Homo sapiens: one gene and its partners. The protein of the gene in region 2 interacts with the protein of the main gene of each other region in a pairwise test. Each region holds a gene or a part of one and is shown on either strand. Other genes may lie near its edges. The genes, in order: APOL2, PANX1, BUD31 and SLC38A7.

The links.
Region 1: the proteins of PANX1 (region 2) and APOL2 interact in binary tests that used the Homo sapiens proteins (3 or more experiments, as listed by UniProt).
Region 3: the proteins of PANX1 (region 2) and BUD31 interact in a two-hybrid assay, tested with the Homo sapiens proteins (one large-scale study listed by BioGRID and IntAct).
Region 4: the proteins of PANX1 (region 2) and SLC38A7 interact in binary tests that used the Homo sapiens proteins (3 or more experiments, as listed by UniProt).

Annotation. Positions count from the first base shown.
Region 1 is NC_000022.11:36,234,678-36,243,159, forward strand, and holds the start of APOL2 (apolipoprotein L2), read right to left. Parts: upstream 4,851-8,482; 5' UTR 4,764-4,850; exon of another isoform or gene 4,459-4,763; intron 2,172-4,458; exon of another isoform or gene 1,919-2,171; intron 1-1,918.
Region 2 is NC_000011.10:94,174,658-94,182,645, forward strand, and holds the end of PANX1 (pannexin-1), read left to right. Parts: intron 1-1,089; exon of another isoform or gene 1,090-1,231; intron 1,232-3,711; coding exon 3,712-3,935; intron 3,936-4,944; coding exon 4,945-5,600; intron 5,601-6,132; coding exon 6,133-6,212; 3' UTR 6,213-7,311; downstream 7,312-7,988. UniProt on the Homo sapiens protein: Ion channel involved in a variety of physiological functions such as blood pressure regulation, apoptotic cell clearance and oogenesis.
Region 3 is NC_000007.14:99,409,707-99,416,845, reverse strand, and holds part of BUD31 (protein BUD31 homolog), read right to left. Parts: intron 6,813-7,139; 5' UTR 6,677-6,812; intron 5,783-6,676; 5' UTR 5,754-5,782; coding exon 5,660-5,753; intron 4,902-5,659; exon of another isoform or gene 4,863-4,901; intron 4,658-4,862; exon of another isoform or gene 4,551-4,657; intron 2,869-4,550; exon of another isoform or gene 2,768-2,868; intron 709-2,767; coding exon 586-708; intron 108-585; exon of another isoform or gene 1-107. UniProt on the Homo sapiens protein: Involved in the pre-mRNA splicing process. May play a role as regulator of AR transcriptional activity; may increase AR transcriptional activity.
Region 4 is NC_000016.10:58,677,758-58,685,745, forward strand, and holds the start of SLC38A7 (sodium-coupled neutral amino acid transporter 7), read right to left. Parts: upstream 7,014-7,988; 5' UTR 6,960-7,013; intron 6,575-6,959; exon of another isoform or gene 6,422-6,574; 5' UTR 6,198-6,421; intron 2,485-6,197; 5' UTR 2,370-2,484; coding exon 2,100-2,369; intron 1,138-2,099; coding exon 939-1,137; intron 718-938; coding exon 576-717; intron 1-575. UniProt on the Homo sapiens protein: Symporter that selectively cotransports sodium ions and amino acids, such as L-glutamine and L-asparagine from the lysosome into the cytoplasm and may participates in mTORC1 activation. The transport activity requires an acidic lysosomal lumen.

The DNA of each region.
Region 1 (8,482 bases), on a different chromosome or scaffold from region 2:
GCACTTACAGGTATAATGGCACTTAATGTTAATGTGGGCAAACATTGGTGGATTTTGCACCACTAATTGCTCTAAGATGTTATAAATAGTAACTCACAGAACTCTTCCAAGAACCTAGGAAGTGTGTACCATTGGTATTTCCATTTTCAGGTAAGAAAACTGAAACAGATGTTCAGTGACTTGCCCAAGCTCAGAATCTACTACGTGGTAAAGACTGGGTTCCCACCCAGACAGACGGACTCAAGAACTCACGCACTGCCTCTGCACCCTCTGCTGCCAATGAAAATTTAAATGAGGGCAACAGGAGATCAGAGATGCCAAGAGATGTTGGAAAACAGAACTGGCTGAAGAAATGACAACTGAATAAAGAGGGGTGAAGGGAGCTGTGAACCACAGCAATGCCAAGAGGGCATCCAGCCAGGCAGAGTGGTCTACTAGGCAGAGCCTCAGAGAGGGGAGGAGTTCACCAGGCCCACGTGCCATATGGGATTCATGCCAGCCTTGAGTCTACACCAGTGAAAAAAATCAGAGAGTTCATGACTGAAGCAATATGCCCCAGAAATAATATCTTTGTATTCTGACACTTCAGTGGGTTCCCATTCAATCACCCTACAGGGAAGACTGCCAGTAGACCTGCCCCCCACCCCGTTCAATATGAATAGATCTAGGATCAGAAATTGGAGAAAGGTGAAAGTGGGGAAACAGACCAAGATGACCAAATACAAAAGGAGTCCAGAACAAACAAGTAATTTTTTAAATCTCAAACCCATGTCCTCAGGGAGATTAAAAAATATTTTATTCATAAACTTAAAACAAGATATATAGAAAAGAAGAAAAATCAATGAAACAAACAAAAAAAGAGATTTTCTAGAAACTAAAAGGTGATGATCAAATAAACAAGTCTAGAGAGACCATGTGAAAGAAAGTCACGGAAATCCTCCAGAAAATAAACCAAAAAGATGACAGAGGAAAAGGAGCTATATGGGGAATAGAAAAGTTACCAGGCACAGGGTCACAGGGTGTTCTAAGAAAGCTACTTGAGAATGAGCCACCGGGAGGAAGAAAGGGTGGGTGGGTGGGTGTGTGTGTGTGTGTGTGTGTGTGTGTGTGTATGTGTTGTGCATCCATGGAGGGCAGGTGGGGATAACCAAGAAAGAAAAAGACATGGGATCCAGAAAACAGGAAAATCAACCCAGAGAGAAGGGAATCTGAGGATCACAGTGGGACATGCAGTAGGCCTACAAAACGACCAGTCCAGGATGGAATAAAAAGGGAATGGTTCTGTGGGAAAAAGGGACTCAATAGAATACCTCAAAGGATTCACAGTTTGAGAGAAACTGAGGAAATGAAGAAGGCAAGCAGTACAAGGGAGGAAAAAAAACAAAGGCAATTAGAAACATCAGGAAAAAGTAAAGCTGTGCCACAAAACATGTGCAAACATGGTGTACAACTCAGCTCCACAGTAAATAGTATTTAAAACATCACAAAATGTAAACACTCTTGATTGATTTTTAACTTTGAGAACAGAACAGAGCATATAAATATGAGAACTAAATATACTTGTTACCGATTAGTACAAACTTAAAGCACAAAGGTAGCAGTTGGGATGTGAAGCACTGAACGAAGGAGAAGGAGGATTAATATTGTCATCTTTTAAAGAGGGGAGTCAAGAAATACTAGGTAAAACTGAGAGTATAAGAAAGAAAGTTGTAAGTAAATTGTTTACAGCTACAAAGTTGCTAATGGAGGACATAAAACTGGTGATACAATATTAGGAAAAGGTGGAGAGGAGAGATAGAGGGAGTGTACAAACAAGATGAAAATGACTAATAATGACACTATAAGTAATAATGATAATACCGATTCAGGCCCATCCCAGTTAGGGGCGGCTCCAAAATCACCATTGTTCTTTTCTCACCTTGTGTCTCTGCGCACTCCCCGGCACACCCACTTCCAGCAGCTGGTCTTTGTTTGCAGACTTTATTTTAACAGCTCAGTGGTTCCCGGGCATCCTCCAGCTCTTATACAAAAGCCCCCTCCTCAAAAGCCACTCGCCTCCCTCTTTCCACTTCCCACCTCTGTTTCAGGGTCGAGGCATCCAGATATCTGTCTTCTGGGGCCCCTACGCAGCAAGACTAAAAGGGGGACCCAGTCCTGGGCAGCAGTTCACCAGGGGAGTATGCAGAGGGGCATCTGGACACTTCTTGCTGTAAGGGACGGGGTGACGGGAGGGGGTCTTCCCTTCCCCTTCTTCCTGCTTTGTTCACTCTGTGACACCCTAGGCCAGGGGAGCTGTCTCAACGCCATCTCATGAGCCATGAGAACCAGGAGGACCAGGAGGGAGAAGAGGAGCAGGAGGGCAGACAGAGCTGGGGCCTCGGACCTGCCCAATACTTGTGAGGAGCTGCATCCAGGATCCCATCCTCCTGGGTCATTGTTGGCCTGGCTCCCACCTTTGTCTGGAGCCTCTGCTGGGGGTTGAGGCTGGATACTGCCCCTCAGGCTTGACTAGGACACAGTGTGTACTCCATGGGTGAGCCTGCAGGCTGGTCAATTCCGGTGTCCAACTGAGCGACCTGGAAGAGGAGCCCTCCCTCCCACCTCAGCTCTGAGCCAAGCTCTCCAGATGCAGAGGACAGGGACTCTCAGCAAAGCATCTCCCTCCAAGTGGTTGTGGGGCATCCTCCTTGGGCAGGGAAAGAGGAGTCGAAATGATTTCCTGAGAAATCGTCATTTTCATTTTATTTTTGAGAAACTGTCTTGCTCTGTCACCCAGTCTGGAGTGCTTTGGGGCTATCACAGCTTGCTGTAGCCTAGAGCCCCTGGGCTCAAGTGATCCTTCTGCCTCAGCCTTCCAGGTAGCTGGGACTACAGGCACACGGCACCATGCAGGACTAATTTGTTAATTTTTCATTTCAGAGAGACAGCATCTCCTGTGTTGCCCAAGCTGTCTTGAGCTCCTAGCATCATGTGATTCTCCCGCCTCTGCCTCCCACAGCACTGAATTACAGGCCTCAGCCGTGGCACTGCACCCTTCTGAGGAATCTTCAGTGAAAAGCCACGGTCAAGTTCAAACCCCATAGCAGGGCACACAGGCCCTCTGATGCTCTGGACCCCACCTTCCTCACCGCTCCCTGCCACCACAGTCACCTTAGGTCCAGGCACCCACTGACGCCCTGCTTCGGTGCCTCCTGGAGCCCATCTACTCCTCCCACTCCCATCCCCAGCCTCAGGCCTTCACTCAGCTGCTCCCTCGCCCTGGAATGTCCCCCCCACTGTCCCCACCATGTGCAAGTCACCTGTCCTCAGAGACCCACCCAAAGCTGCCTGGTCCATGCGGCGGCCCCCAACCCTCCCCAGGCTCCCTGAGCACTCTGCTTTCCAGAGGGAGCTCTACCTGTATGTGGCTCTTTGGGCCTCTGTCTCCCCTTTAGACTCTGAACATTCAATGGGGACACTGTTGTGTTCCCAGCTGCACCCCCTACGACTGACCTGGATGCCCTCCGCCCTCCCTGGCACAGCCTGGCTGAAATCCCAGGTGCAGGAGGCATTACTTGAACTAAAAGCAACCAGCCTCTGGATGACATGGCCCAGCTTCAGTTTCACTTTCAGTTGAGAAATTGAATTTAATTTTTCTTTCTATCTTGATGGGCATCTCTTTTTGGTGAAGAACAAATAAGACCATGACTCATATTTCACAGAAATTACCCCCCTGATTTCATGGACTTTTGGCAGCTCTATCAAGTTTTTTAGAGGGGAAAAATCTTAGGCTGGGAGGGGAGGTGACTTGCCCAGAGTCACACAGCTCTTGGAGGGCAGAGGGGAGGCCAACATCTGCCCTTGTGACTCTGATATTGAAGCAAAAATGGGTGATTTTAATAATCCAACAGTGTCCAGGTTTGATTCTGCTTCTACAAACACAGAGACCTAAGCTCTCACTCCTGTAGTTATACTCACAATTCCACAGTGTGGCTTTTGAATCTCATGATTGCAAAGCTGGCATCATGCCACAGGTACCATTCTGCAATGCGACCTTCTCACTCCCCTGTCTCAGCCATGTTTCCCATTAGGGACACAGCACAGCCTGTTTCTTCTCTATCAGCTCAGAGGTCTGAACAGAGGGACAGAGGTGAGGGCCAGAGACGTGAAGTCCTATGATCTGCCTGCTCAGCCTCCTGACACGGGACCCTGGCAAGTCATTCCCCTCCCAGGGCCTCAGTTTCCCCACAGGGCCTGGCACAAGTAGGTGCTCAGACTCAGGGTGAGTGAGACAACCTCTGAGTTCCTTGTGTCTCAAAAGAAATCTGTTGTTCCCATTGGGCTTCAGCAGCAGCACCCTGGGGCCAGCCTGGGTGTGGCCCGGCCACAAGGACATGCCGGGCTCCAGGTCACCTCCCCTCCTCCACCTTCTTTGATTCCTTCAAATTTCCCAAAGAGATGGGCACCCCCAACACCTACCTTTCTTCTGGGGTCAGCTGGCCGTGTCTGAGGGTGTCAGAACCAGAGCTGAGCCCGGGGAGCTTTGTGAACCCATCTAAGCTGTTTTCCCCACCTCTCTCTACAGTTTACCCGCCCAGCAGGAGGGAGGGAGCAATCAGACTCAAGCCTGGGTGCAAATCCCGGCTCTGCCACTGCTTTCCTGTCTGATCTGAACCAGCTACCTAACCTCTCTGAGCTTATCTACAAAAGCTGAATGATCCTTCCCTTATAGAGCTATTGCAAGAATAAGGACATGGGGGTAGATCACACTATCCCCAACTTACCAAGGGATCTTCCTCTGACAGAGACTGAGCAAGATCCAACTGTTCTGAGCTGTGTGGATCCCACGTCCAGCTGTGCATCTGTGTAATAACCAGACACGTCCTCCGGCCTCCCAGATATACCCTGGAATTCGAAAGGGAAAGTGAAAGTCACAACTTCCCAGCAGCTCATGACCAAGCACAGTAAACACGCTGCTCCCCAGCACCACCTGCAGTCCAGGCCCAGCCTCCTTGCTGCTGCACTTAGAGGAGCAGCCGCAGACCAGACATCCGGGTCCCTCTCATCCAACCCACCTGCCTCACATCCTCAGGATTCAAGGTCTGCTGTGTCAGCTGCCCATGTCTCAGGCAGTCAGAACCAGAGTTGAGCCTGGGGAGTTTTTTGAACCCATCTGAGCCGCTTGCCCCCCAACCCCCGCCCCGATCTCTGCAGTTTAAGGGCACAGCAGGTGGGGGAGAGAAGTCAGACTCAAGCCTCAGTGCAATTCCAGGCTCTGCCCCTGTTTTACTGTCTGATCTGAACTAGTTACCTAACCTTTCTGAGCTCAAGAAAGACCTGCCACTGACTGACCGTGGGGCTCTCCAGATTACTCCCCGTCCTTCCGTTCCCCCACATTCCTCAGATGCCTGCCTTACTCCCACACATGCCATCAGCATCAGCACAGTCCCCCACACATGCTGGGTGGATGCTTATTGCATATTTATTGTAATGCTTCTGAGGTTATGTTTTCTGTTATGTTTTTGATATAGAGTCTTGCTCTGTAGCCCAGGCTGGAGAGCAGTGGCACAATCATAGCTACTTCAAGTGGCACAATCAAGCCATCCTCCCATCTCAGCTTCCGAGTAGCTGGGATTACAGGTGCCTGCCACTACACCCAGCTAATTTTTTGTAATTTTAGTAGAGATGGGGTTTCACCATCTTGGCCAGGCTGGTCTTGAACTCCTGACCTCAAGTGATCCACCTGCCTTGGCCTCCCAAAGTGCTGGGATTACAGGTGTGAGCCACGGCGCCCAGCCCATTGTATCCTTCTTGTGACTTTGTGTCTTCATAGCTTAGCTCCTACTAATAAATGAGAACATACAATATTTGGTTTTCCATTCCTGAGTTACTTCACTCAGAATAATGGTGTCCAACTTCATCCAGATTGTTACGGATGCCATTATTCCCTTCCTTTTTACAGCTGAGTAATATTCCATGGCATATACATATATAGGGGTGTGTGTGTGTGTGTGTGTGTGTGTATATACACACACATTTTCTTCATCCACTTGTTGGCTGATGAGCATTTAGGTTGGTTCCATATTTTTTCGGTTGCAAATTATGCAGCTATAAACATGCATGTGCGAGTATCTTTTTTATATAATAACTTTTCTCCTCTGGGTAGATACCCGGTAGTGGGATTACTGGATCAAATGGTATTCTACTTTTAGTTTTTTAAGGAGTTGCCATACTGTTTTCCATAGTGGTTGTACTAGTTTACATTCCCACCACCAGTGTAAAAGTTTTCCCTTGTCACCATATTCACACCATTTTAGCTAGGCTGGTCTTGAACTCCTGACCTCAAGTGATCCACCTGCTTTGGCCTCCCAAAGTGCTGGGATTACAGGTGTGAGCCACTGCACCCTTCTATTCTTCTTTGATTTTTAAATTATGGCCATTCTTGCAGGAGTAAGGTGGCAACTTATTGCAGTTTTAATTTGCATTTCTCTGATAATTAGTGACGTTGAGCACATTTTCATATTTTTTTGGCCATTTCATTTTGTATATCTTCTTTTGAGAATTGTCTATTCATGTCCTTTGCCCACTTTTTGATGGGATTATTTTTTTTTTCTTGCTGATTTGTTTGAGTTCCTTGTAGAAACTGGATATTAGTCCTTTGTCAAATGCACAGTTTGCAAATATTTTCTCCCACTTTGAGGGTTGTCTGTTTTCTCTGCTGATTATTTATTTTGCTGTGCAGAAGCTTTTTACTTTAATTAGGTCCCATCTCTTTATTTTTGTTTTCGTTGCATTTATTTTTGGGTTCTTGGTCCTGAATTCTTTGCCTAAGCCAATGTCTGGAGGAGTTTTTCCGATGTTATCTTCTAGAATTTTTATGGTTTCAGGTTTTAGATTTAAGTCTTTGATCCATCTTGAGTTGATTTTTGTATGAGGATACTGTTTCATTCTTCTACATGTGGCTTGCCAATTATCCTGGCACCATTTGTTGAATAGGGTGTCCTTTCCGCACTATACGTTTTTCTTTGCTTTGTCAAAGACTAGTTAGCTGAAAGTATTTGGCTTTATTTCTGGGTTCTCTATTCTGTTCCCTTGATCTATGTGCCTATTTTTATACCGGTACCATTCTGCCATTATGTACCTTTTTTTTTTTTTTTTTTTTTTTTTTTTGAGATGGAGTCTCTCTCTGTCACCCAAGCTGGAGTGCAGTGGTGCGATCTTGGCTCGCTGCAAGCTCCACCTCCTGGGTTCATGCTATTCTCCTGCCTCAGCCTCCCGAGTAGCTGGGACTACAGGCGCCCACCACCACACCTGGCTAATTTTTTTTTTTTTTTTTTTTTGTATTTTAGTAGAGATGGGGTTTCACTGTGTTAGCCAGGATGGTCTCGATCTCCTGACCTCGTGATCTGCCTGCCTTAGCCTCCCAAGGTGCTGGGATTACAGATGTGAGCCACTGCACCCAGCCCTTGTACCTTTTAAGTGAACCATTTAGCCCATTTTCATTCAATGTTAGTATTGAGATATAAAGTGCTGTTCTATTCATCAGGCAAGTTGTTGCCTAAATACCTTATTTTTTTCATTGTGTTATTGTTTTATAGGCCCTAAGGCTTATAAAACAATATGCTGTAAGGAGGTTCTATTTTGGTGTATTTCGAGGTTTTGTTTCAAGACTTAGAACTCCGTTTAGCATTTCTTGTAGTACTGGCTTGGTAGTGGCGAATTCTTTCAGCATTTGTTTGTCTGAAAAAGACTTTATCTCTCCTTCATTTATGAAGCTTGGTTTTGCTGGATACAAAATTCTTGACTAACAATTATTTTGTTTAAGGAGGCTAACAACAGGACTCCAGTCCCTTCTGGCTTGTATGGTTTCTGCTGATAAATTAGCTGTTAATCTCATAGATTTTCCTTTACAGGTTACCTTATGCTTTTGTCTCACAGCTCTTAAGATTATTTCCTTCTTCTTGACTTTAGATACCCTGATGACATGTGCCTAGGTGAGGATCATTTTGTGATGAATTTCCCAGATGTTCTTTGAACTTCTTGTATCTGGATATCTAGATCTCTAGCAAGGCCAAGGAAGTTTTCCTCAATTATTCCCTCAAATAAGTTTTCCAAACTTTTAGATTTCTCTTCATCCTCAGCAACACCAATTATTCTTAAATTTGGCCATTTAACATAATCTCAAATTTCTTGGAGGCTTTGCTCATTTTTTAAAATTCTTTTTTCTTTGTCTTTGTCTGATTGGGTTAATTTGAAAGCTGTGTCTTCAAGCTCTGAAGTTCTTTCTTCTACTTGTTCTAGTCTATTGTTGAAACTTTCCAGTGCCTTTTGTATTTCTTTCAGTGTGTCTTTCATTTCCAGAAGCTGTGATTGTTTTTTCTTTGTGATATCTATTTCTCTGGAGAATTTTCATCCATATTCTGTATTTTTTAAAATTTCTTTAAGTTGGTTTTCACCTTCCTCTGCTATCTCCTTGAATAGCTTAATAATCAACCTTCTAAAT
Region 2 (7,988 bases):
CATCCAGCCCACTGCCTAGCACATAGCAGGTCCCCAGGAGATGTTTTTGAGTGAATTTACCCATCTGCACTTAATCCCCTAAGATGAGGTCACATGCATTTTAGGGGAGGAGTTGTTCAGTCCGAATTGGATGGTTCTTTGCCTTCGATGAGGTAGAGAGGATTTGAATATGGAGGGAAGTTGTACTGCTCACCCTCTAGGTTCCTTCCATCTGGAGGTTTCTGTTGTTTTAACTATAACCCATTCCAGAAACAGCACACATTTTTAAGGCAGATAGACTGAAAATTGTAGTTGGACAGCTGCTTGGTCCCACAATGATTTGAGAAGTTTCCCTATTCTTGGAAGAGCTCAATACTCACTCGAACATCATGCAGAATAGTGCCATCATGGCTTCAAGAGATGCTGAGCATCCCAGGCCTAATGTGGAGTTGACACAGCTTATGAACAAAGCTGTTTCCATCTGCAGATGCACCCTCAAAGCCCTGCAGCTTTTCCATATTTCTTATTTGAAATTAAAGACTGTAATTTTGTGTTATTTTGGATTCTTATTTCCTGTTTTACTACATTTTTATAGAATCACTGAAAGTTGCCTTTTTATTTTGGTGGGAAAAAAATAAAAAGAGGTTTTAGTGTGGAGAAAACCAAGAGATGTGGCATTAAATGATGTTATTATAGTGGTGATCAAGGTACAAGGCTATTTTAGGGAAATTTACACCCTATATGTAATTTGTTTTTCTAATTACAATGAGCTGTGCTGAACTATTCATTGTACCACTTATTGTACCAAATTATTGTACCACTTGGGCATGTTTAAAAATACCACAGACTGTAAATAGTCACTTTTTAATTCAAGGGAACAGTTCGAAGTGAAATGCCATTATTCAAATAGCTTTGAAACAAAAGTGACTTATACAGATGTTTCACAAGCCCATGTTAGAAAAAGTTTTCTCCCTGTGGTTCCCAGATAGAATGCCTGGCTTTCGTGGTTATGGAAGCAGCAGAAACTCTGTGTCATGCACTTATGTTTTTAAACTAATGGGCACCCTTCTGATTGGGCAAGAATTAAATGAACATTCCTTCTCCCCACAGCCAGCTATGAATTATGCAGCCAAAATTCAGCTAATCACAGCCTGCTTTGTGTGTCATTGTGTAGCAGCCCTTTGCAAATTGGGTTAATACTTTTGAAACACCTCATCCCGTGCCAGAATGCCAAAGTAAAGCAGCTGTCTTGGTAAGAGGGCTTTGCAAAGTTTTGGGGTCATTTGTGCTTATTTCTGTCTTGCGTCTGGGGCAGAGATTCCTTATGTGGGTCTGTGATAGTGACAGGAGGCCTGCAAACTAGGATAGGAAAATATATGACAGCTTTATTTTTTATTCACTTCCAAATAAAATTTAGCATTAAGAAAGTTTTTATGTAGGCAACAATCCATAGTGATATTAGCAGTACCTGTGAGTTTGTCACCCACAGAAAATCACAGATATCCTGGAATATCGTTTACTCTTCACTACTTCAAAGTTTCAATAGCTGTTAGATCATCTGCTAGATCCTAATTTAAGTATGAATAAAGAATTGGATGCAAAATATTAATATTTTGGTAACTGTATATCAGTGCTCTATTTCCTTTGTGAACCTATATATATATTATTTTATGCATTTAAAAACAAGGAAAGATTGAAGAACTGTCACAAAACCAAGGAGTCTAGGGAGACATGGCAACTAAATGCAGTGAGTACCCTGGATTGGATCTTGGAACAGGAAGAGGACAGTAGGGGAAAAACTACTACTGTACTTTACAAATAAAAGTCTGAAGTTTAGTTTCTGATAATGTGCCGATGTTGGCTTCTTAGTCTTAACAAATATATCACAGAAATATGAGTCATTAGCAATGGGGGAAACTGAGTGAGGGGCTTATGGGAATGCTCTGTACATCTGAAATTACAGTGAGGGCCATGTTGTGGGGGCTGCCGTCCACTCCCAGAAATGTTTTGAGGGGAGGGTTTCATGTCAACTTACGGCCATCATGGCCTCGTCCATTACAACTCTGAGAAATGGTGGAGATAGACCCATCCAAAAGTAAGGAGAAGTTTTCCAGAGGAGTAAAGTAATTGAGAGTGTGTTAGATTGGAAAAAGATGTCTCTGGGGTCAGAGAGGTTGGCAACATAGTCTGACTCTCACTTACCAGCTTTGTGATCTGGGGCCAGAAACTGCTCCCGGCTTTCTCTTCCCATTTGCAGAATGGAGCCATCTATAGAGTCCCTGCCAGGGTTGCTGTGAGGACTGAACATAACGTGTCCACCTAGCTAATCTTTTTGTGGTTACCTGGAGTGTTTGAGTGCCTGTTCTATGCCAGGCCCTTTGCTAAGCATTTTCCATCAATTATCTCCTTTAATCTTCATGACACCTCTATTCCATGACCATTTCATACATAAGGAAACTGAGGGTCAGAGACTTTGAAAACTAACCAGATGGATGGGCTAAATGCTGGGGACAGCGGGAGCCATTGCAGGTACCTGAGCAGGGTGAACTTGGCGGTTCCAAGAGTTAAGCCTCAGTAATGGTGTACAGGAGAGAATAGAGGCAGGGAGAGCCACTTGGTAAGCACAGAGTGAGGGTTCTAATTAGGGAACAGAAAGGAAAAGAAGCAGTTTTGTCCAAGAAGGCAAAGAGCAAACAAAAAGCAATACTCTTATGTCTTATTGCTGATTAGAAGATCACGCAAAAGGATAGTCGAAAGTGACATCAAGGGCCTAGACCAGGGTCAGCAAACTTCTGCAGAGGGCCAGATCATAAAGTTTTTTTGTCATTGCAGATCACATGGTCACTGTCGCAGCTACTTAGTTCTGCAGAGTAGACATGATTGCCCAAGGCCGCAATGCTGAGCTTCAATTCAGATCTGCACTGACTGCAATTTACGGTCTTCCTAAGTCTTCTGCTGAGGCTAAGCCACCTCTGACCAACTGGTGGTCCTGGTTACTGGGGTGCTCCTCACCCTCTCTGACGTGTGAATCCCCTCTTGTTTGGTGTGTGTCTGCACCCTGATGTGGATGCTCTCCTCTTGATTCCCTTGCCCGTTGTGGATGGCCTCTCTGAGCCCAAGTTTATCCAACTATACGATGAGGGTGTTGGACTGCCTTCAAAGTCTGTTCCACATTCATTCTGCATTCTGTGAATTCAACTGCTTATTTCAGCTGTCTTATTGGGATGATTACTGAATCACTGAAGTCGAAGCTTTTCTAATTTGTTTTGGGGGAAGTTACATGTTTCTTTGGCATTTTCCCAGATTCCAGAGTAGGGCAAAAATGGAGCCGTATGCCTTAGTTGCTTCTTAAAACCATAAAAGTTAACAAAAACCCAGCAGAAGCCTTCGTGATAGCTGCAGGTTTCTTAACTGGGATTTTGTTCAGGGAACGGGAGTAATTTTATTTTTTTATTTTCCTTCTGTGATTAGAACGTACACACCATGTGTCACCATGCAGTTGCTGATTACTTCAAATTAATACCTATGGAAGAAAAAAAAATAGGTAGTTACCTGTGACAGGTATTACCTGGACAGGGGAATTTAGCCATAAGAAGTAGTTATTAGGTAATGAGCCCAATTTCCACAATACACATTTGTCTCAAGATGTGAGAAAATGAGAGCATCACTTGGCGCCATAGGTTACTGCATGGGGGGTTTGTTAAGCCCATGATTTGTTCTCTTGTTTTTCAGTTTTTCCCCTACATCCTGCTGCTCTTTGCGATCCTCCTGTACCTGCCCCCGCTGTTCTGGCGTTTCGCAGCTGCTCCTCATATTTGCTCAGACTTGAAGTTTATCATGGAAGAACTTGACAAAGTTTACAACCGTGCAATTAAGGCTGCAAAGAGTGCGCGTGACCTTGACATGAGAGATGGAGCCTGCTCAGTTCCAGGTGTTACCGAGAACTTAGGGCAAAGGTAACTTAGCCCCAGCAGGCAGCTCATCGGGTTTTGTAGGACAAATTCTCTGCCCTTCTACTGCCAGTCTGGGCCCAGAGTTCTCATTGCTAGGAGGCGGGGCAGGAGTGGAAGCAGGGGGACGTCATGCACCTAGTGACAGCCTGTAGTATCCCGGGATGTCCACTCTCCCCAAATCTCACCGCGACCCATCCTACCCATTTGTTTATCCTTCTGTCAAGACTCATTCCCTTGATGAGTGAAACATTACATCTCATTTTAAAAATGCAGTTCTTGTAGGGGTAACAGATTGAGGTGCTATATGAAGCTTGCTTGCTTTGATCTATTTAACTCCTTAATGGAGACGCACAGAGGATTTCAAGGCAGCTGAGCAAGGGATGAGAGAGAAATGGGGAATGAGTAGGTCGTGGCTTGCCTTTTCACAACCTTCTTTTGGTTCTTGTTATTGAATAATTGGAATAATAATAAGAGCCATCATTTTTTGAATATTTAATATATCTCACACACCGTATTGAGTTATTTAAGTACATTATCTCCTTTAACCCTCAGAGCAACATTACTAGTGCATTTGTTAACCTCCTCCTCCACTTTTATTCTGGATAAAAATACTCTTCTGTAGCTGTAAGTGAGAGTCTGGGAACTGAACCATGCCCTTTAGACCCCATAGTTTTTGCCCATACCCCCTGAGTTGTCCCACCCCTTGCCTGTAAGAGGCGTATGCTTACACATATTTAGGATTTACCAGATGCCAGGCATCACTCTAAAAATTTCCAAATATTAACTCATTTAATTAACTAGGCCTTCTGTTAAATATTAAGGGGAAAAGCATTTTATTATTCCTTTTCTTCCTCCTCTTTTAAACGGATTTTATTTTTGACTACTGACGTTGTAGGTAAAGAAGTATGGGTGTTTGAAATTTTTAGTGTGACATTGTTGAATGTGTATCTGCCTTTAATATTTGATGGTCTTGATGAGTGCCTAAGTTATTTTTGTTTCCTTTATTTTTTAGTTTGTGGGAGGTATCTGAAAGCCACTTCAAGTACCCAATTGTGGAGCAGTACTTGAAGACAAAGAAAAATTCTAATAATTTAATCATCAAGTACATTAGCTGCCGCCTGCTGACACTCATCATTATACTGTTAGCGTGTATCTACCTGGGCTATTACTTCAGCCTCTCCTCACTCTCAGACGAGTTTGTGTGCAGCATCAAATCAGGGATCCTGAGAAACGACAGCACCGTGCCCGATCAGTTTCAGTGCAAACTCATTGCCGTGGGCATCTTCCAGTTGCTCAGTGTCATTAACCTTGTGGTTTATGTCCTGCTGGCTCCCGTGGTTGTCTACACGCTGTTTGTTCCATTCCGACAGAAGACAGATGTTCTCAAAGTGTACGAAATCCTCCCCACTTTTGATGTTCTGCATTTCAAATCTGAAGGGTACAACGATTTGAGCCTCTACAATCTCTTCTTGGAGGAAAATATAAGTGAGGTCAAGTCATACAAGTGTCTTAAGGTACTGGAGAATATTAAGAGCAGTGGTCAGGGGATCGACCCAATGCTACTCCTGACAAACCTTGGCATGATCAAGATGGATGTTGTTGATGGCAAAACTCCCATGTCTGCAGAGATGAGAGAGGAGCAGGGGAACCAGACGGCAGAGCTCCAAGGTAGGGTTTGCTTTTGGCAGAGGCTACGGGAGTCTACCGAGAGCCTTTGCAGCAGCCTTGTGGGAATATTGACAGTCTTTACCCTGCCCATCATTTAAACCATTTCCAAGCATTAAAAACCTTAATACCAAGGTGCGGGGTAGGGGGAGTGGGAACCCCTCAGTATAAGGAGAGAGAGGAAAAGAATTGGTGCTGCTCTACATTTCCAAAGAAGAATAACTTCTGTGCTTTTTCTGGTTTTTCCCTCTTCTCTGTCTGTCTCACACTCTCTCTTGCTCAGCAATCTTCCTTGTCTTTCTTGCTTATTTTTGTCTTATCTTACTGGCTTTCCTTTCTACCTCTGATCTCCTTCTCTGTTACTCTCTGACTTTCTCTTTCAAAGGGGACTAAAAGTTTATTGATTCTTTTAGTTAGGCCAAGAAGCAAAACATGGTATAGACTGTGAGAGGAATTTTTGGCAGAAGAAAAATTGATTAGTATTGGTAATTCCTGCTATGTTTCTGTCATAAATATTTGTTTTCAATTTTGACAGGTATGAACATAGACAGTGAAACTAAAGCAAATAATGGAGAGAAGAATGCCCGACAGAGACTTCTGGATTCTTCTTGCTGATGATTTTTTTCCTTGAGCTGTAAATCTGTGACTTCTGCGACATGGGATTTAATTTGGCTAAAGCACCCCTGTTGGTTTCACAGCTGGTTTGCAATAAATGGTTCTTGGTGGAGATACTGAGCATGTCTTATTGAGTCCCTAATGGAAATGGTGATCAACAAAAGGTTATGGAAGAATGGTTTATGAACTTCCCATAGGAAGCACCTGAGAGATAGTAAACTGCAGCAAGTAACTATGTGTAAGTCCTCATCAAATGAAAAGCAGAAAGACAAGAACAATTAGTCAAGAGCAGTAGCCCTGTCAGAGCCTCGGAGCAATACCTTTCTGTACCCGTGGTGAGACAAGACCCAGAGCTACTGGAAAACAAGCACTTTGGAAGATTTGTTTTGTTTTCATGGAATAATAATATGTCAGGGTATAATTTAACGTGAGTTTCTTATGTGCCCTTAAAGACTGTTAGACAAGAAAAGCATTCACTGGCTAATAATCCATAGGTCGACCTATGTCCTAAGTTAGGTGTAAGGTCCGATGCCTTGGCCCACACTCGAGCTCTCTTTACATTGTTAGTTGTCAACCTTGGCTGATGGAAATCCCGTAACCACTATTTGTTGCACTGTGCCTTGAAGGGCAGCAGGCCCAAGTGCTGCTCTGACTGAAAACTGAGTTAACAAGATGAAATCTAAAGGATATTCACAGTGACTTCAATTCAGGAAGAATGCTTCCAAAAGAGCCCAGTGGGGAAATCTGACATCACAGAAGACATTAATTCAGTCACTTTCAAAGAGTTTGTCTACAGGCGGTTTCTCTGTTATCAAAGGCATTTGAAATAGGATTTTACTTAAACAATAATGGAACACAGGAGTATTTAAAGTGAAGAACACTTTGCCTGAATGTGATCAGGGCACATAAGTGACATTGGCATGCTTCATATGGCGTGCTTGGAGCCAGAAAAACTTAGCGGTTTATTTTGTTTATATTTAAGCACAGCTTTAAAAAATTCATTATCGTTTATTCAGTGTCCGAATTGAGGCCATTTGGGAAGAAAATTCTAGCACTGGTGGAGAATTATAGAATAAAGATTATAAATGGTTGGATAAGACAAATGTAAGCTTATTTCATAAACATTTAAAGCTGATTCAGAACATGTTAAAAACTGTTCCCAATTCCAACTATGTAAATAGATCCTATGTTCACATTTTACACACACACACAAAAATCTTTAACATCTGTGGAACTTCCCAGTTTTAGTCTTAGAAAGTTAGCATGTTGCATAAGTTCAGTAATCCTCAGGAACCTCCAAGTTTACTTTTAGCTCTTACGGACAGTTGTTTACATAATCTAATTACTGTTTTCTGAAGAACGGAAATTATATAAGCTGCTGTCTGCCTTTTGGAATATTCAGAAAAGCAGATTTTATTTGTACTTCTGTGATGTTTTCTGAAATGGAAAGCTGATGATAAATATCAAAGTAGCAATCAGTGCGTTAAATTATTCTGTTACATGATATTTATTACTGTTGAATTATTCTGTGACTTAGAAATGGCAGTAACCTAAATAATGGAATTTGCAAAATTATTATATTGCCGTATCTGAGATGTTCCATCACAAGTTTCTACACTGGTTTCTTTTGAAAATTTAAAAAGATTTACGAGATACATTTTCTAGGATATGATTTTTTTTTTACAAAAAGCTTCATCTTCTGTAGACTATCCTTAATTTCTATTTTGAAACGGTAAAAATTGATATTTTAGGACACCAGGAAGTCTCCAAGCCATT
Region 3 (7,139 bases), on a different chromosome or scaffold from region 2:
AGGAGGTTGAGGTGAGAGGATCCCTTGAGCCCAGAAGGTTGAGGCTGCAGTGAGCCATCATTGCACCACTGCACTCCAGCCTGTGGAACAGAGCAAGACCCTGTTTCAAAAAAAAAAAAAAAAAAAAAGCCAAGAGCGGTGGACCACGCCTATAATTCCAGCACTTTGGGAGACCGAGTCGGGTGAATCACCTGAGGTCAGGAGTTCAAGATCAGCCTGACCAATATGGTGAAACCCCATCTTTACTAAAAATACAAAAATTGGCCAGGTGTGGTGGCAGGTGCCTGTAATCCCAGCTACTTGGGAGCTGAGACAGGAGAATCGCTTGAACCCAGGAAGTGGAGCTTGCAGTGAGCCAAGATTGCGCCACTGCACTCCAGCCTGGGTGACAGAGTGAGACTCCATCTCAAAACAAACAAACAAAAAACAAACACACACACAAAACTCAGCCAACGTTGGCTCCCCCTAATTTTCGTGGTAAGAAAAACCATGACTTGCACAGGTTGCGAGAATAAGGATTGTGGTTAGTTCAGTAACTCCAAAAGTGACGCGAGCTTCAAAGTCCAAGAGAGACTGACTAATTACCTCTGCTGATGGCTTTCCGCTTGTAAAAGAGGTCGAAGATGTAGCGGGTTTTCTGGTGGTGGATCCTGAAGATGGGCCACAGAGATTCCACTTTCCTCTTTCCCTCATGCGGTTCTGTTTCAGCTGGGGAGAAACAAAGAGTGTGTTTGGGGGAATAGGGTCGGTCTGCGCAGGATTTTCTTTTTGTAAGTAACTACTGATAATGAATAAATACCACTTTATACCCACTAGGATGGCTGTGGGTGGCAAGCCACCCAGGTGCCGAGGCAAGAAACCGAGGGCACGAGCTGTTCTAGTATAATAAAATAAATAAAATAAGAATAGTTATACTAGATATAGATCTTAGATATGATTATATATGAATATCATTAATCCTTAGTTTGTAGCAATTACTCTTTATTCCAATATTATAATAATCCTCACTCGACAATCATAACCTAGGAAACACCAGGCTATACAGAGATGGGAGCTGAGGGGACATAGTGAGAACTGACCAGAAAACGAGTGCAAGCCTTCTGTTATGCCCGGACAGGGCCACCAGAGGGCTCCTTGGTCTAGCGGTAACGCCAGCATCTGGGAAGATGCCCGTTGCCAAGCGGACCTTGGTCTAGCAGTAGCGTTAGTGTCAAGGAAAAACACCCGCTACTTAGCAGACCGGGAAAGGGAATCTCCCTTTCCCCGGGGGAGTTTAGAGAAGACTCTACTCCTCCACCTCTTGTGGAGGGCCTGACATCAGTCAGGCCCGCCCGCAGTTATCCAGAGGCCTAACTATCTCCCTGTGATGCTGTGCTTTGGTGGTCACGCTCCTAGTCCGCCTTCATGTTCCATCCTGTACACCTGGCTCTGCCTTTTAGATAACAATAGCAAATTAGTGAAAGTACTAAAAGTCTCTGATAAGCAGAAATAATGGCATAAGCTGTCTCTCTCTCTCTGCCTTGGTGCCAGGCAGGCAAGGGCCCGCTTTCCAGTGGACACGTGACCCATGTGGCCTTACCTATCATTGGAGATGGTTCACACTGCTTATCCTGCCCCTTTGTCTTGTATCCAATAAATATCAGTGCAGCCTGGCATTTGGGGCCACTACCGGTCTCCGCGTCTTGGTGGGATTCCCAGGCTCAGCTGTCTTTTATCTCTTTGTCTTGTGTCTTTATTTCTACGCTCTCTCGTCTCCACACACGGGGAGAAACCCACCGACCCTGTGGGGCTGGACCCTACAGATGACTATAATCAAAATTATGGCACAATAACAAGTGTTGGGAAGGATGTGGAGAAATTGGAACTCTCCTACGTTCCTGGTGGGAATGTAAAATGGTGGAGCCACTGCAGAAGAGTTAGGTGGCTCCTCAAGAAGTTAAACAGGGCTGGCCGGAATCGGTGGCTCACACCTGTAATCCCAGCACTTTGGGAGGCTGAGGTGGGCAGGTCACTTGAGGTCAGGAGTCTGAGACCAGCTTGGTCAACATGGTGAAACCCCATCTCTACTAAAAATACAAAAGAATTAGCAGGGCATGGTGGCGCATGCCTGTAATCCCACCTACTTGGGAGGCTGAGGTGGGAGAATCGTTTGAACCCAGAGGCGGAGGATGCAGTGAGCTGAGATCACACCACTGCACTCCAGCCTAGGCAACAAAGCAAGACTCCCGTCTCAAAAAAAGAAAAAAAAGGGAATGAAGTAAGTACTGATATATTCTACAACACAGATGAACCTTGAAACATCAAACTAACTGTGGCAATGGTCGTACAACTTTGTGAATATACTAAAAACCCCTTAATTGGATAATTTAACAGGTTCACTTTTACAGTATATGATTAATATCTCAATAAAGCTGTTATTTAAAAACAGAATAAGCCGCCGGGCATTTTGGGAGGCCAAGGTGGGCGGACCACGAGGTCAGGAGATCGAGATCAGCCTGACCAACGTGGTGAAACCCCATCACTACTAAAAATTAAAAAATTAGCCGGGCGTGGTAGTGCACGCTTGTAATCCCAGCTTCTCAAGAGGCTGAGGCAGGAGAATTGCCTGAACTCGGGAGGTACAGGTTGCAGTGAGCCAAGATCGCACCACTGCACTCCAGCGTGGGCAACAGTGTGAGATTCCGTCTCAAAAAAAAAAATAAAAAAATAAAAAATAAGCTAAGTAATTTAAACATAATTGTTTTAAATTAAAAATGTCTATTTTTGGATCCTTTTGTAATTCATGAGTGTGCTTGGGTGTTCACATCCATGTGTGAGACATGCCACTCTCAAACCTTGTCACAACGTTGGCACATTACCCATGTGACAAGAAAAAAAGTCTTTTTAATTACAGAATTAGAAAACATAGATTTTTAAAGACATTTAATGGTAACTTCTGTTAAAAGGTTGGTCCCGGCTGGGCACAGTGGCTCACGCCTGTAATCCCAGCACTTTTGGAGGCCGAGGTGGGTGGATCACTTGAGGTCAGGAGTTCGAGAACACCCTGGCCAACAGGGCAAAACACTGTCTCTACTGAAAATACAAAAATTATCTGGGCATGGTGGCACATGCCTGTAATCCCAGTTACTCGGGAGGCTGAGGCACGAGAAGTGCTTGAACCTGGGAAGCAGAGGTTGCAGTTAGCTGACATTGTGCCACTGCACTCCAGCCTGGATGACAGATGACCCTGTCTCAAAAAAAAACAAAACAAAACAAACAAAAAAAAGCCAAAAAACCAACCTTGGTCCCTATGCTTTCAGATCTATTTCTACAGCGTAATAATTAATCAAGATAATTCTAGGCCCACAGATGGGCATCCTAATCATCTTGAAGGCACTTCTAATTTCATCTCCCAGCCAAAGTCCTTTAGGGCTGAGGAAAAGCTAAATAAACTAGACCAGTCTACAGGTTCTGAGGGAAGTAGCCACAGCAGAAGCTGCTCCTTCAACACACGCAGGATCAGGTGGCACTCATACTTGCCGCAAGGCAGTTCTCTCTCTCTCAGCAGTCACAAGTTCATCTTTGTCTATGACCTCCTCAGTTTTTAGGGAAGAACAGAAGGGCGAAGAGTGGTCAAGAAGACTATCCCTCCCTGTCTCCAGCTTTTAAGCCATTCTATTACCTAGGAATTACAATTCAGCTCAACAAACAGAATGCTGTGATCCAAGCAGAAAAGCAGGTAGTAAAGATTCAGCAGGTACACATGTTAAGACGTGACTTGCTCCTCCTTGGCCTCTGCCATGATGGTGAGGCCTCTCCAACCACATGGAACGGTAAGTCCATTAGATCTCGTTCTTTCGTAAATTGCCCAGTCTCAGGTATGTCTATCAGTAGCGTGAAAATGGACTAACACACCCCCATCTCTACAAAAAATTAGCCAAGCGTTGGTCGGGCGCGGTGGCTCATGCTTGTAATCCTAGCACTTTGGGAGCCTGAGGCGGGTGGATCACAAGGTCAGGCGATCGAGACCATCCTGGCTAACATGGTGAAACCCCGTCTCTACTAAAAATACAAAAAAAAAAAAAAAATTAGCTGGGCATGGTGGCGGGCGCCTGTAGTCCCAGCTACTCCAGAGGCTGAGGCAGGAGAATGGTGTGGACCTGGGAGGCGGAGCTTGCAGTGAGCGGAGATCGCGCCACTGCACTCCAGCCTGGGTGACAGAGCGAGACTCCGTCTCAAAAAAAAAAAAAAGAAAAAAAAGAAAAGAAAACTTAGCCAAGCGTGGCAGTGGATGCCTGTAGTCCCAGCTGCCTGGGAGACTGAGGTGGGAGGAACACCTGAGCCTGGGAGGTGGAGGCTTCAGTGAGCTGTGATTGAACCACTGCACTCCAGCCTGGGCAACAAAGTGAGACCTTGTCTCAAAACAAAAACAAAAAGAAAACAGAACAAAGAATACTTCTGTCTGGAGGTAAAGAATATCTAAACACAAAGTAGGGTTCCTCCTTCCCTCAAAAGTCACCCTTTAGAAGATGAAGTTAATTTACTTTCAAGGACTTGCAAAATCTCTTCTATTCCAGCATGCTCCCATTTCCTTTATTTTGATAAAGAGCTGTTTCGGGAAGACATCTCTCAGCCCAAAATGACCGTGATTACTGCAATAGGCCCATCCAAATCTAAACTGCAAAACAAGTACTGAGTATTTAATAGAAGTTATCTGGTACGAACAGTTTTTTTAAAAAGGGGCAAAGTAATTTAACATTGATTTAATTTAGTAATTACTGCTGGAGGTACGACCTCATAATAACCATGATTAGGTTAGTTACAAGCAAGCATTTCAAAAGCTACTTTAAAAAGTAACTTCAGCTGGGTGTAGTGGCTCATACCTGTAATCCCATCACTTTGGGAGGCCGAGGTGGGTGGATCACTTGAGGCCAGGAGTTCGAGACCAGCCTGGCCAACATGGAGAAACCCATCTCTACTAAAAATACAAAAATTAGCCGGGCATGGTGGCGCATGCCTGTAATCCAAATTACTCGAGAGGCTGAGAGGCAGGAAAATCACTTGAACACGGGAGGCAGAGGTTGCAGTGAGCCGAGATCACGCCACTGCACTGCAGCCTGGAAGACAGAGCAAGACTCCAACTCAAAAAATAAAAATAAAAAAGTCAATTGGTAAGTGGCCACACTGTGATCATATAAGGCCAACAGATGCTTGTGGCTTCAGATAAAATTTCCAAAGACAGCATAGGACACGGGTTCACAAAGCAGGATCACACGCCATTTACAAGGAAGTGACAGAAAACAGATGCGGCAAAGACTAATCGATGATACTGAAAAGGAATAGCACTTCCAAGTAAATATATTTTGTATGATTTTAAATATATATCTAACCAAAATAGTAAATAACTATAGGTAGACTATTTGATCTATATTTCATAACCTTTTATATTCGAGTTGGCAAAAACAAAAACAAAAAAAAACACCTTTTCTGAGGACCTTTTCATTAATGTTATCTTATTTTCGGGCACTTACAGTATTTCCCCAAGTTCATAAGCAAACACAACATGTCAGTGTTAGTAGACCACTCTCTTTTTATATTTGCATTTATGCCTGTCCCCTGGGGGCATCTAAGCCTGTGACCCTTGGACCCAGCCCACCCAGACAGGAACTCCCCTACTCACCTTCTCTCATCTTTTGATCTAATTCATCCAGTGTTGGCTCAATCAACTCCCAGCCATCTGGGGGTGCTTTCCGGCTTCTTTTGACTTTAGGCATTTTCCTTCCACAGGATAATCTGCAAAGATCTGGGGGAAAAAAATGAATTGGTTTCTGAGTCTCAAATCCCCAAAGGCCTTTGCCAGCCATTATTTCGGTACAGGCTGACTTCCTTGAGTCAGCATAGGGTCACAGCTATGGGACAGGGCTCAGCACCCAGACTGTGTTCAAATCCTGGCTCTGCTACTTACCCGCTGTGATCTTCAGAAAGGTACTTAACCTTCCTAAGCCTCTGTTTCCTCATCTGTAAAATGGGGATAATGGAAGCTACCTTATGTGGTCATTGCAAAGACTTCATTAGAATTGTATCTATCATGCCTGGTGTATAATGTGTGCCTAAGAGACATTTGCTGTTGTCATTAGCTAACTTCAACTAAAAGCTTAACCCTATACTGGATGTTGGGAACACAGAACAAAAGTTAAGCCTTTGCCCCTTAGAAGGTGACATTTTAGCAAAGAGACAGACAAGAGAAAAAGCAATTACAATAGAGTATAAGGAGGGCTGTGACTCGGGGAGCCATGGGGGTGAGTATTTAAAAAGGCAAAGATGGAAGGTCAGGCACGGTGGCTCATGCCTGTAATTCTGGTCTTGGCCAGCACCTTGGGAGGCTGAGATGGGAGGATCACTTGAGCCCAGGAATTTGAGACCAGTCTGAGCAATGAGGTGAAACCCTATCTCTACCAAAAAAAAAAAAAAATCAAAAAAATTAACTGAGCATGGTGGTGGGTGCCTGTGGTCTGAGCTACACGGAAGGCTGAGGCAAGAGGATCACTTGAGCCCAGGAGGTTGAAAGTCTTCAGTTAGCCATGTTCACACTACTGCACTCCAGCCTAAGTGACGGAGTGAGACCATGTCTCAATAACAAACAAAACAAAACAAAACATAAAATAAAAAGGGAAAGATGACTGTAAAATCAAAGTACCTTAGGATGTGCTTTCCAAGAGTATAGACAGCAGAAAGATCTCTCGTCTCTGCAGTTGCAGGCTTGGATTCTTGTTCAGCTCTAAAAAATTATTCTGTGACTTTCAGGTCACCTTCCCTCTCTGGTCCTGTTTCTTCTGTAAAATGAGGGCAGTGGATTGGCTGATTGCCAAGGTCTCTTTCACACCAAACAACATATTACATAAAGTCAGGTAGTTCCCATACAAGAGGCCGATCCCAATCTAAATAGCAAAGCGTTTTTCAAACCACACAGCATTTCCTTGCTGCCAGAGAGAACCCAGGTTAAGTATTTACCTTTCAGCATAACAGATTCATCTCTCTCAAATTCATTCAGTCACTCCCTTCTGTACTGACACTTTACAAAGACCCACCCCCCCCCCGCCCACAGAGCCTCCTCTCATGAACTCTCTAAAACAACCATATAGAGGAGGAATCAAACTCTA
Region 4 (7,988 bases), on a different chromosome or scaffold from region 2:
TGGGAGACCATCCTCTGAGCCTGGCCTTTGAGAACTAAGAGATGCCAGAGGTAAGAGGGTTGAGAGTACAGACACTTTTGTGTCAACATTTATGGGAGCCTTGGAGAGAGCGGAGCATGGCCCCTGCACTTACAGACGGGGAAGCCTAGAATCCCACAGCCTTTCAGACACCGAGACAGGAAACCAGTCTCCTTCCTTCATGCCAAGCTGCAGGTAAGATGCTGGTAGGCTGACAGTCTCAAAGACCCAAATTCCTCCCAGGGAATGCCAGGAGGCTGCCTTCACCGCCCAGATACCACCTGTTCCTTCTTTGACAAGGGCACTTAGAACTGAACTACTCATGGATGCAAAAGGACATTTAGAACTGAATCTCTCATGGATGCATCCTTTTTCTATGATGGAGACAGAAAAGGATGGTCTTATCTGAAACCCTGCAAGCCCCGGTCTGCCCTGCCTTGCCTACTCTTGCTCCCCAAGGTGAGGTGGCATGGAGGAGCAGGGTTCCCCAGGAGCCCTTGGGTCTACAGCTGCCCAGGATCATAGCTTCTGTCTGACCCAGGCTGGGGCCTCCAAACCTGGCATATTTCTGGAAACCAATCTCCCTGGGGATGGAGAGGGGCAGGATGAAGAGGAAGGCAGTGAGGCTGATGGTGAACTTGCGGTCTGTGTACCAAGGGCCGCTGGCCCCCTCCGGCTCTTTCGCCATCACAGCTATAACTGCACAGGGAGGAAGGAGGGAATGTCAAGCCAGGCCACCATGGGGTGTGGCCCTCCTGCTCTGCTGGGCCCCAGGACCTCCCTCTGCCTGGAGGGAGGATTCCCAGATGAATGCTGGGCCCAGGTAAGTCCTGGAGAGGTGTTCAGTGCCTTTTCCCTCCACCCCAGGATCCCTGGGGCTGATAAGAAGAGATGGGGTAGGGACTGAGGGAGAAGCTCACTCTTGTCCTGCTGGTCGCCAATGATGATTAGGAAGGCAATGCAGGTGCCAAAGGTGTAGACAGCGATGGCCACCTCACATAGCACACCTGTCAGCTTGCCACACACAGCCCATACCACCTCCTGGTAGGTCCTCTCATTGCTGGCCTGGGAGCAGTAGGCCAGGATGACAAGGCCACTGATGATGAAAACCAGCATACCCTGCAGGCAGAGGCAGAACAAGAGCTTGTGGCAAAGGCCTGGCAGCAGAGGGCACCCTGGGCTCGCCTAGCATTTACTGGGCCAGTGCCCAAAGCAAGCTTGGCAAATCTCACAAAGGCAATTTTAAGAGACTGCTAGAGGATGCCGAGTTGAGATTTTCTTTAAAAACAAAAAGTTTTTTGAAAAATTGCCAACATACAAAAGTAAAGAGAATAGGCTGGATGCGATGGCTCATGCCTGTAATCCCAGCACTTTGGGAGGCTGAGGCAGGAGGATCACTTGAAGTCAGGAGTTTGAGACCAGCCTGGCCAACATGGTAAAACCCCGTCTCTACTAAAAATACAAAAATTAGCTGGGCATGGTGGTGGGTGCCTGTAATGCCAGCGACTTGGGAGGCTGAGGCAGGAGAATCACTTGAAACTGGGAGGCAGAGGCTGCAGTAAGCCGAGATCGGGCCACTGCACTCCAGCCTGGGTGACAAAGCAAGACTCCATCTCAAAGAAAAAAGTAAAGAGAATAGTAAAAAGAACTGGCATGTATCCATCACTCAGCTTCAAAAATGATCAATGCATGGCCAACTTGTTTCATCATTCCCCTTCCCTCCCACTCTGCATTTATTGTGAAGCCAATATAAGCTATCATATCATTTCATCAATAAATATTTCAGTATGTAGTTCTAAAAGATAAGGGCCCTCTTTTTAAACATACCACAAAATCAATGTTACACCTAAAAAATTAGAGATGTAATTGATGTTCAAATTTCTCTGATTGTTGGAAGGCTTCTGAAGCCTCATTTGGGTCACAGGAAAGAATACTAGAATAGATTAGTCATGTCTGCCATGTGTGAGGGAGGGGAGAGCAGTGCGTGTATCACTTACTGGCCATCCCTGACCCGAAGCCTCCCTTTTGAGGCAAAGCGCCCAACTGAACTGCACCTCTGCCCTCCCGGCCAGTGCACTCACCATCTGCAGTGCGATGCCTGCTGCCACGCCCCCCGCAGTGCTGAAGGCTGCTGGGAAGTTGAGTAACCCTGCACCCAGGCACGCGTTGACGACGATGAAGATGGCCCCAAGTGTGGAAGTGGTGCCTCTGTCCAGACCCCCAGGAGAGGCTTCCCACTCACTCTTGGGGGCTGTGTCCACACAGGGACTCTGCAGCAGCCGAGCCCGCTCCCCGGCATCCGTGCTCAAGTCCCACTCGCTGTAGTCATTGTTGATGCTGACCTGGGCCATGGCCCCGAGAGCCTTCTTCCTGCAAGGTCTGTGGGTTCTGCCTTACAACCACATGCCTCAGGGAGCTGAGCAACACCCACCTGTTTGGGGCTGTTAGCTTAGGACTCTTCTCAACCTAGATGGGACAAAGGCAGGCACTACTGTTATCCTAAGATGGGGGAACTAGGGGACAAAAAGGTGTAATAACTTTCCCAAGATCACATGGGTAGGGTCCAAACCCAGGTATGCCTCTGTGCAGACAGTGCACTGGGTGCCAGAGTATGGGGAGACAGACACAGAAACAGATCAGGTGCAAATCATGCTTGCTTCAGGCATACAGACTCAATGGACCAGTTAGATGTCAACATAAAATGGGTACTAACACATCAGCACTCGATAGAGGCCCCGCATCGGGCAGGTGTGTCATGGATATACTTTATCTCATTCAATCCTTAGGATGGTCTTGTGGTCAAAAGGTTCGGAGAGATCCCATCACTGACCCAGGGTCATATATTAGCAAGTTGCATAGCAGGATTTGGATCCAGATCTGTCTGGCTTCCCAGCCTGTTTCCACCCCACAGGGTCCCAAAAGGACCCCTTACCAAGAACTGAGATTCAACATATTACAGTCCAGCACGCCTCCCGGTGGCCTGGAGTCTGAATTCTGTGGCTTTCGAGGCCCTTCGAAATTCAGGCCAATTCTCGACTCTTCTCTCATGTGACAAGCCCCCATGCCTGTCATGTTTGCGTCTTCAGGAAAACAGTGATTCATCCCATGCTTCTAATGCTCCCAACTCCTTTGCCGCCACCCTTTTAGGTCCTATTTCTTCCCCATTTCCTGGGTCACTCACTGAGCTCTTCTTGGAGCCATGTAGGGGCCCAGAACCACTCTAGCTGGTTTCTTCTCAGTACTCTCTCATGTGCTAGCATCTCACTGGCCACTAGGCTTGCTTTCCTGGGCTAGATTACAATGATCAGTGCCAAACATGCAGTGCTGTTTGTCACTATAAACCACTATTGCTGCAGCTATGGAATGCTTTCTCATTCAATCCTCAATGCAGCCCTAAAAGGTAGACATGACAGTCACCATTTTACCAAAGAGGAAGCTGAATCCCAGAGGGGATAACCACTCTCCCCTCAGTCATATGGCGGTCAGTGGTGGAGCTGGGATTCAAACCCAGGCCTGTCTGACCATAGGGCATCCATCTGTTTGTATCTGCCCCACTCCTGGGTCCAAGATGGTACCTTGGGTATGGCAGAACTCAGATAACAGGCTTATCACCTGACTGATTCTCTTTGCTCTCTGGATAAACACAATTGAGATGCAGTTTTTTTTCTTCCAAGAATCTCGAGAGGCTCTGAGGAGCCCAGCCCTGAAAAAGGATCTTCAGTGTTCTCAAGGTTCAGCTCATAGCCTGAGACCCGCAGAGAAATGATGGTCCTAAAGCATCAAGTCCACCCCCAGATCAAGAGCAGCCCTGGGCAGGGCTGTGATCTGGGTCTCCGAGTAGGTTCTGCCGTCAGAATGCTGACTCCTCCGCTGCCTATCTGTGTGACCCTGGGCAAGTCACTTCGCCCCTTTAGGCCTTTACATCATATGTTCCTGTGGGTCGTGTGTTAATATCAGTAAGGGTTTAAGACTCAATAAATGGTCACTGCTGCTGTTATTTCTGCAGATGCCCCTTCCCATGTTGCCCACCACCACCATGCCTGAGACTCTCCAGCCCTAAGCAAGCAGGGAGCAGAACACTGATCAAAACCAGAGCCTGGGCCGGGTGTGGTGGCTCACATCTGTAATTCCAGCACTTTGAGAGGTCGAGGTGGGCAGATCACCTGGGGTCAGGAGTTTGAGACCAGCCTGGCCAACATGGTGAAACCCCATCTCTACTAAAAATACAAAAATTAGCCAGGTGTGGTGGTGCACCCCTGTAATCCCAGCTGTGCAGGAGGCTGAGGCAGGAGAATCGCCCGAAATTAGGAGACAGAGTTTGCAGTGAGCCCAGATCACGCCACTGCACTCCAGTCTGGGCGACAGAGTGAGACTCTATCTCAAAACAAACAAACAAACAAAACTCAAACCACAGCCTGGTGCTATTGGCCAGGTAACAATGGGCACAGAGGCCCTGGGATAGCTAATGGGAGAAAGAGCAGGAAGAAGGCCAGATTTCAAGGGCAGGAACTAAGGGGGCAGGGAGGAGCCAGGGCAGTCTTCCCCAGAGGCTGCTATTAGCTGGTTACCACCCAGGCTGGCGAAATCTGCCAAAGACTCCTTCTCCTAGAGTCTCCTCATTCCTGAGTCCCGATTTCACGGTACTCATACAAAACTCCATTTTAATCTCTACTCCCTCCCTGGTTTAGTCTTTATTTATTTAGAGACAGGGTATCACTCTGTTGCCCAGGCTGGAGTGCAGTGGCGCAATCAGAGCTCACTGCAGCCTCAATCTACCAGGCTCAAGCAATCCTCCCACCTCAACTTCCCGAGTACCTGGGACTACAGGTGTGTGCCACCACAGCCAGCTAACTTTTAAAATTTTTTTTTTTTTTGAGACGGAGTCTTGCTTTGTCACCCAGGCTGGAGTGCAATGGCACAATCTCAGCTCACTGCAACCTCTGCCTCCCGGGTTCAAGAGACTTTCCTGCCTCAGCCTCCTGAGTAGCTGGGATTACAGGTGCCCGCCACCATGCCTGGCTAATTTTTGTATTTTTAGTAGAGATGGGGTTTTGCCATGTTGGCCAGGCTGGTCTTGAACTCCTGACCTTGTGATCCCCCTTGGCCTCCCAAAGTGCTAGGATTACAGGCGTGAGCCACCACGCCTGGCCAACTTTTTAAATTTTTTGTTCCTGTGGGGAACAAAATTGGCCTTTCAAAATTCAGGCCAATTCTCAACTCTTCTCCCATGTGACTTCTCCCACGTGACAAGCCCCCCACGCCTGTCATGTTTAAATTTTCTGTAGAGATGAGGAGGTCTCACTATGTTGCCCAGGCTGGTCTTGAACTCCTGGGCTCAAGCAATCCTGCTGCCTCGGCCTCCCAAAGTGCTGGGATTACAGGCGTGAGCCACAGCCCCCAGCCTGGTTTAGTCTTTATAGCCCAGAGGGAAAAAAAGGGAACTGAGCATATTCAGCCATAATGACTGCCCTAACCATTGGGCCACCCTCTCTGATGCCTTCAGCCCACTGGGGGTTTAAAATGACTAACAAGACCCCTTGGACTACTTCCCATTGCTCCTCCTGATGATGGACAAACAAAGCTGGGGACCATCCACTCATGAGAGGGAAAGGGTGAAAGTTCATGTGCTCTCAGCCATCTGTTATCAAGCATGGAACCAAGGGACATGGCACCAGAGGAAACATTCCTCTGCTGGCTCGAAACCCAGAAAGATCTGTCAGATGTCACAGGGCTTACACATCCTCTTACACATCCTGTCACCCAACCAGCAACTCAGCAAAATCAAAGCAGTGAGCAGCGAAGGCAGAGTCTTGGGACTCCCAGGCTTCCAGTGTAGCTAGAGAAAGAACCCTGCAAAGTGACCACTGCCAGAGCTGTGACCATCTCCTCCCCGCTGCTCACGTCACAGAGACAGAGGTCTACAGAGTGATTCGTCCAAGGTCACAAGGCTTGGTGCGGCTTCCTGACTCTCCAACCAAAATGTTTCCCTTGGGCACCCCTGCCCGAGTCCTGCACCATCCTCCAGCCTCTCCTGCCACCCACATGAGAGTGCAGGCTGGGGTCCTCGTGGAACTCAGAAGCTGGGGGTCCCACCTCTTGCAGATTCTCTGCCTTGGTTAAGACCTCTCGGCACCCCCACTGCTCACTGGCAAATTACTCAGCTCATTGTTGCACCTTACCTGCTCTTTCTCCCTGATGGGCTGTGCCAGAGGCGGTTGCTCCTTCTCCCCAAAGGTCTGGGATCTGATTCTCCTCACTTCCCTTTCTGGACCCAATTTCTTCTTTCTCAAGACTTTGCCTAAAATTTGCTGTCAGCAGAGGGAAGAGTTTGGGCTACTTCTGTGCTGGCTTCAGCAGAGCTGGAGGAAACTGAGCGGCTCTCACGCTTACTCATGAAATGGAGCTTCAGGACAGATAGGAAAACAGGCCCAGGAGGGAGAGGTTAGACTAAGGTCACAGTGGGTAGCTGGCAGAGCCAGAATAGAAGCCTGATGCCCACATGCTCAGGCCAGCGATGTAGGCCCCTCAGATCCCAACTGGAGTGTGCTCCCAGTCCAGCCTGGGGTTGGAGCCCTGAGATAGAAAGGGTGGGCTGCTTTGTGAGGTGAGGCTTTGTGAGGTGAGCCAGGGCGCACCCGGGCCAGGAGGCCGGGGCGGGGCGATTCCCAGGCCTGGAGCGAGAAGGGTGGGCTACTGTGGGGTAACCTGGGGAGGAGCTCCGGGACCCGATCCCGGCCTAGGACTGGGTGGAGACCCTCTGGCTGGGTAAAGGCGCGGCAGAGCTGGCGCAACAGAGGGACGGGCGTGGGGCGAGGACGCCAGGATCTGGACCCCTGCAGGGAAAGGGTCTGAGCTTTTCCGCGGTGGCGGGGACTGAGGGGCTCCACAGACCTCGGGGATCTAACACTTCCACCCTCCAGAGCCTGTCTCCGGCCACCTACCTTGGGGGATTCTTTCCCGAGCCGGCTGCGGAGACACGTGAGCATGCATCACATGACGCCCGCTCGGGCGGCCGCGGGACACGCTGGGAGTTGTAGTTTCCGCAAATGTGAAGCTTGGACAACACCAGCTCCCTGAATCCTCAGCCCGACAGCACTGCCCTGAGCCAGCCTCGCGTCCAGCCAGCTCGTGTTTATCCTCTTACTTTTAGTCTTGGCCTCTTGACCAAATCAAACACTGCTCCTTCCTCCAAGGAAGAGCATTAGGAGGTCTGGCCTCTTTGCCAGTCCCGGTGGCGGTGGGCCAAAGCTGTTTGGCCTCATTATCCTCCCGGTCTCTGTCCTTGCCTTCACGCCCATGGCCAGAGCACTGGAGTTTTTTTTTAATCAGTAATGTGGGGGACCTGGAGCCACGGTCTTTCCTGCAAGGGAGTGGGCTGGGGGCATGGTTACGACCCCATCGGTTTAGACTCTAGAACAGTTTTTGAGGGATTGTAGGTGCTCAGTAAATATTTGTTGAATGACGAAATGGGCATCCAGTCCTGGTTCTGTTCTTGGCTGTGTGTCACTCATAAATTGTCACGTAATCTCCAGCATCCCAATAGCCTCATCTCTGTTTTGTGGATATGCTCTCCACTGCACTTACCTCTCCATGCATCAGAGGTCCTCACCGATGAGGACACACTGGGAATCCTTAGAAACCCAAATCACACCTTTTTTTTTTTTTTTTTTTTTTTTTTTTTTGAGACAGAGTCTCACTCTGTCTCCCCGGCTGGGGTGCAGTGGCACGATCTTTGCTCACTGCAACCTCTGCCTCCCGGGTTCATGTGATTCTCCTGCCTCAGCCTCCCGAGTACCTGGGATTACAGGCATGCACCACCACTCCCAGCTAATTTTTGTATTTTTAGTAGAGATGGGGTTTCGCCATGTTGGCCAGGTTGGTCTCAAACTCCTGACCTCAAGTGATCCACCCACCTCAGCCTCCCAAAGTGCTGGGATTACAGGCATGAGCCACCGTGCCTGGCCTCCAAA